Linked DNA regions of Homo sapiens: region 1 is linked to region 2. Evidence: fine-mapped expression QTL. A gene starts in region 2. The other region holds a variant in brackets. All regions are shown on one strand. Distances are from middle to middle. Region 1 overlaps SYCE2 (synaptonemal complex central element protein 2). Region 2 holds the start of FARSA (phenylalanyl-tRNA synthetase subunit alpha).

What was found. PIP is the estimated chance that this variant, and not a neighbour inherited with it, causes the effect.
Region 1: its variant is the best candidate, but not a certain one, in a credible set for the expression of FARSA in lung (TOPMed, PIP 0.63).

Annotation. Positions count from the first base shown.
Region 1 is chr19:12,908,684-12,911,183 of GRCh38, reverse strand. All of the region lies in intron 2 of SYCE2 (synaptonemal complex central element protein 2), which reads left to right. Among named protein-coding and RNA genes, the nearest start is that of SYCE2, 9.4 kb to the left of the region's middle. RefSeq lists a silencer at 239-407 and a cis regulatory region at 2,193-2,500. The variant C/T (reference allele first, on the strand shown) is at 1,254.
Region 2 is chr19:12,932,100-12,935,119 of GRCh38, reverse strand. FARSA (phenylalanyl-tRNA synthetase subunit alpha) reads left to right here and starts at 1,409. Exons shown (of 13, transcript NM_004461.3): 1 at 1,409-1,570. The coding sequence starts at 1,424. It overlaps FARSA-AS1 (FARSA antisense RNA 1), which reads right to left. Exons shown (of 3, transcript NR_149078.1): 2 at 2,083-2,150; 3 at 1,824-1,971. RefSeq lists a silencer at 69-174 and enhancers at 1,211-1,505, 1,227-1,726, 1,737-1,806.

The sequences.
Region 1 (2,500 bases), 24 kb after region 2:
GTAACATAGCAAGACCTCCATCTATACAGAAAAATTAAACAAAATTTAGCCAGGAGTAGTGGTACCCGCCTGTAGTCCTAGATATTCAGGAGGCAGAGACGAGAGGATCACTTGAGCCTGGGGGAGTTCAAAGTTGCAGTAATTGTACTGATGTACTCCAGCTTGGCAATGTAGCAAACCCTGCCTTCAAAAGAAAAAAAAAGGTCAGGCCGGGTGCGGTGGCTCACGCCTGTAATCCCAGCACTTTGGGAGGCCGAGACGGGCGGATCATGAGGTCAGCAGATTGAGACCATCCTGGCTAACATGGTGAAACCCCGCCTCTACTAAAAATACAAAAAATTAGCCAGGTGTGGTGGCGGGCGCCTGTAGTCCCAGCTACTCGGGAGGCTGAGGCAGGAGAATGGCATGAACCCGGGAGGCAGAGCTTGCAGTGAGCCGAGATTGTGCCACTGCACTCCAGCCTGGGGGACAGAGCGAGACTCCATCTCAAAAAAAATATATATATATAAAAGGTCAGGCGTGGTGGCTCATGCCTATAATCCCAGCACTTTGGGAGGCCGAAGCAGGCGGATCACTTGAGGTCAGGAGTTTGAGACCAGCCTGGCCAACATGGTGAGACCCTGTCTCTACTAAAAATACAAAAATTAGCCGGGCGTGGTGGTGTGTGCCTGTAGTCCCAGCTACTCAGGAGGCTGGGGCACGAGAATGACTCGAGCCCAGGAGGTGGAGGTGGCAGTGAGCTGAGATTGCACCACTCCAGCCTGAGCGACACTCCAGCCTGTCACTCCAGCCTGAGCGACCGAGTGAGAGTCTGTCTCAAAAACAAAATAATAATAACAAAATTTTTTACAAAAGAAAATTTCTTACAAAAGAAAAAAAAATTTTTTAACATAAAATTTATTACAAAATTTTTTACAAAAATAAATAAGTAAATAAAATAAAGGTCCCTATGGCCTAGTTGAGAAGTGAAAGTTATAGAGCTGCTAATGATGGTAGATTTAGAGACATTAAGAAGGTAGGGCCGGGCATGGTGGCTCACGCCTGTAATCCCAGCACTTTGGGAGGCTGAGGCAGGTAGATCACGAGGTCAGGAGTTGGAGACCAGCCTGGCCAAGATGTTGAAACCCCGTCTCTACTAAAAATACAAAAATTAGCTGGGTGTGGTGGCAGGTGCCTGTAATCCCAGCTACTTGGGAGGCCGAGGCAAGAGAATCGCTTGAAACCGGGAGTTGGAGGTTGCAGTGACCTGAGAT[C/T]GCTCCACTGCACTCTAGCTTGGGCAACAAAGCAAGACTCTGTCTCAAAAACAAATAAATAAAAAGGCTGGGCACAGTGGTTCATGCCTGTAATCCCAGCACTTTGAGAGGCCGAGGAGGGCGGATCACCTGAGGTCGGGAGTTTGAGACCAGCCTGACCAACATGGAGAAACTCCGTCTCTACTAAAAATACAAAATTCGCCAAGTGTGGTGGTACATGCCTGTAATCCCAGCTATTCGGGAGGCTGAGGCAAGAGAATCGCTTGAACCCGGGAGGCGGAGGTTGCAGTGAGCCGAGATCGCGCCATTGCACTCCAGCCTGGGCAATAAGAGTGAAACTCCATCTGAAAAAAAAATTAATTAAAAATAAAAATAAAAAAACAAAGAAGGTAGAAATGAGGGGATTTTGAGACAGGATGCAGAGGGACAGAGAGAAGCTGGACTCTAGGCTTGCTGCTAAGTTTTGAGCTTGGGAACCAGGTGGCTTTTTATGTCATTAACTAAGGGAATGGAAGATGAAATCGGGTTGCCTGGGAGATGACGCTTTTGGTTGTGCAAATGTGGAGTTTCAGATGCCTTTGAGACAGCCATGTGGGGAGGCTGGGAGGTTTCATATATTCTTGGGTCCTCAGGAGAGAGGCATGGGCTGGGATGATAGAATTTAGATGATAGAATCCAAAGTGTGGATGGTAATGGATAGTACTCGCAAGTCATTTACTTATTAGCAGCACATTTATTGCTTCTCTCATGAGGGGTAAGTACTGAAGATACAAAGATGAAGGATGGCCCTGGCCCTTCAGCAGACTACAGTGGGAGGCCAAGGTGTAAACAGTGAAACCGTAGGTGCTGTGTGCACCTAATCCAGCCAAGGAACACTTTCTGGAGGAGACAGGACGTAGGTGGGAAAGGGGACTGTTCAGGGATCCCATGCTACGGGAATGAATGCCTTTGGAGAATAATAGCCTGTGCATTGTGGAATGGTGGCTGGGATATTAGCTGCAGGGGCCAGCAGGGAGGAGGCATGGAGGCCTCACTGCAGAACAAGTGTGTGATTGACGGTGTCTGGCAAGAAGACAGCAGAGGCCCAAGCACAGACCTCTGGGATACCACATGTCGGGAGTAGCAGGGAAGGGTGGTCAGCAGTGCTGGCTGCTGCCAAGAGGTCAGCATGTCACTCTGAGATGTCTATCGGTCTAACCACAAGGTCATGGTGACTGTGGTAGGAGCTGTTTCATTTGAGAACCGGG
Region 2 (3,020 bases):
TGTCACCCAGGCTGGAGTGCAATGACACGATCTCGGCTCACCACAACCTCTGCCTCCCAGGTTCAAGCGACTCTCCTGCCTCAGCCTCCCAAGTAGCTGAGATTACAGGCATGCGCCACCACGCCCTGCTAATTTTGTATTTTTAGTAGAGACGGGGTTTCTCCATGTTGGTCAGGCTGGTCTCAAACTCCCGACCTCAGGTGATCCACCCGCCTCGGCCTCCCAAAGTGCTGGGATTACAGAGGTGAGCCACTGTGCCCGGCCGAGTGCAAAATATTTTATTAGTCATCTTTTTTTTTGTAAGAGTCAGGGTCTGGCTGGCTGGGCGAGGTGGGTCATGCCTCTAATGCCAGCATTTTGGGAGACCGATGCAGGAGGATAACCTGAGCCTAGGAGTTTGAGACCAGCCTGGGCAACATGGCCAAAACCCATACTTAAAAAAAAAAAAAAAGCTGGGTGTGGTGGCGCGCACCTGCAGTTCCAGCTACTCAGGAGCCTAAGGTTGGAGGATCCTTAGAGCCTGGGAAGTCAAGGCTGCAGTAAGCCATAATTGCACCACTGCACTCCAGCATGGGTGACAGAGCAAGACCCTGTCTCAAAAAAGAAAGATGTTTTGCACTGTGTTTCTATAGGACAGTGCTAATCTAGGCCATGCAGTATTTGCACTGACGTTACTCTCAGCGCACAGGGGTGGGAGGATCTGGAAGGTTTATAATTTATGACTTCATTTCCACCAACTCTCTGTAGAACCTTGGGCAAGTCATACCACCCTCTGAGCCTCAGTTTTCTCACATGTGTAATGCGGTTATATCAGTATCTACATCATAAAGTTTTGGGGATAAATGAAATACTACACGTGAAGTACTCAGTTCTGGGCTAAGTACTACCACATACGAGGTAGTCCACACAGGTTAGGTGCCACCTTGACTTACTAGGTGAATTCCTTTTCCCTCTATAAAAAGGGACGGTACCTACCCAGCCTTCCTTTGAAATTTTAAAAGTAGCTGACATCGCCAAAATGACCATCTCTGGAGCCCACCACCCACCGCCTCTCCTAGGGCAAGAGAGAATACCAGAAGGGCAGAGGGTTCTGTAACCCAGAGACGGGGAAGTCCAAGGTCACACAGCCCGCTCGAAGTGAGGCTAGATAAAACTCAAAACAGGGCGGTGCTTCTGACCTTGAGATAATCAATTTTACCCCTCTGGTCAACCAGACGCCATTGATGGAGCCAGGGTGGAGGTGGGAACTGAGTCCCATGCACCTTTTGCGGCTCCGTCGCCACACTCAAGATGACGACACATTGAGCCCTGTTCTACAGTTAGACACATTCAAGATGGCGGTACACACTCCGGTTCCGGTTCCGGTGGCTCAGCTCCCCCCGCCCACCCGGGCCCGGACACGCTGAGCACACTGGAAGGAGTCATGGCGGATGGTCAGGTGGCGGAACTGCTGCTCCGGCGGCTGGAGGCGTCTGATGGCGGCCTGGACAGCGCCGAGTTGGCGGCTGAGCTGGGCATGGAGCACCAGGCGGTGGTGGGCGCCGTGAAGAGCCTTCAGGCGCTGGGCGAGGTGAGCCGGGCCCGTGATGCCGGACCGCCTTGCCCTTGCACCTACAGTCCCCTTGCCACGGGCGCTCTACGTCCAAGCCAAATTCCCTCAGGCCTAGTTTGGGGTAGCTGTATATGTGTCCACTCCGGGATGTGCGGGCGGGAAGTGGGACGAGTGAGGGCCCAGACGCACGGATGTTCCTCATGCAATAAACGTTTATTGAGGCACGGTCAGCGTGGGTAGAGGGTACGATGATGGACGAGGAAGTCGCGGTTGCTGCCCTCACGCAGGTTGCGACGTAATAGGAAGGTGCTTCAAGAACCAGAGTGATGGGGGAAAACAGGGGACCCAGCTGTGACAGCTGACCCAGCCTTGGGGGTCAGGGAGAGCGGCCTGGTGCAGGTGACGGCTGAGTCTGTTCTCTGTTGAGGAAAGTGATAGCACTTTAGAGATCAGTGGCCGGGATCTTGGGGGATGGCAGGCGGCAAGGGAGACCAGCATAGCTGTAATTGCAAAGCCTCTTAGGTCTTTACCTCATGAGGGAACTGGGAAGCGATAGCAGGAGCTAGAGCCGGTCAGATGAGTGTGCTATCCACATCACCTTTGGGAAGAATTGGCATGGACAGGACTGGAGGTGAAGGGATGAAAGAAGAAGCTGGCACTTCCCCAAGCTGGAGGGCATGATGTCTGGCTATGGGAAGGAAGCTTGGGGGAGGTGGGGAAGGCGTGGGATTCAGGACAAGGCAGGGGGCGCACAGATGAAGTCCAGCCTTCTGACTTGGGCAAGTGGACAGTGACAGAGTCACAGGCGTAGGATGCTGAGGGGCCCGTGGGCCACCCAGAAGGCTAGATCCATGGGGCCAGGATCTGGGCTGTTTATCCGTAGAGCTCATGTTCTGTGCCCCACTTTGGTCTCAGCTTGTTTGTCCAATCCATTCCATAATCCTGGCTGATGGCCATGTTATTCCCATTTTGCAGATGTGACAACTGATGGTCAGTAACATAATCAGTGTGAATAGAAGAGGCCGATGAGCCCAGATTTGAAATTAGGCACTCAGGCTGCAGAGCCCATAGTCCTCAATGCAGAGGAGAGATGGCAGCTGTGTTGTGTGGGGTGACAGTGCCTTGACCAATATGATCTGACATTTGTATACGTCACAGAGGGTTAAATAATATAAGGAGGTGAGGTTCAATCTAATGACAGTAATAGCCATAAAAATAATTATAGTAATTAGAATTTATGCCGGGTGCAGTGGTCACACCTGTAATCCCAGCACTTTGGGAGACCAAGGCGGGTGGATCACGAGGTCAGGAGTTCAAGACCAGCCTGGCCAAGATGATGAAACCCTGTCTCTACTAAAAATACAAAAAAAAATTAGCCAGGCGTGTTGGTGGGCACCCGTAATCCCAGCTACTTGGGAGGCTGAGGCAGAGAATTGTTTGAATCGGGAGGTGGAGGTTGCAGTGAGCC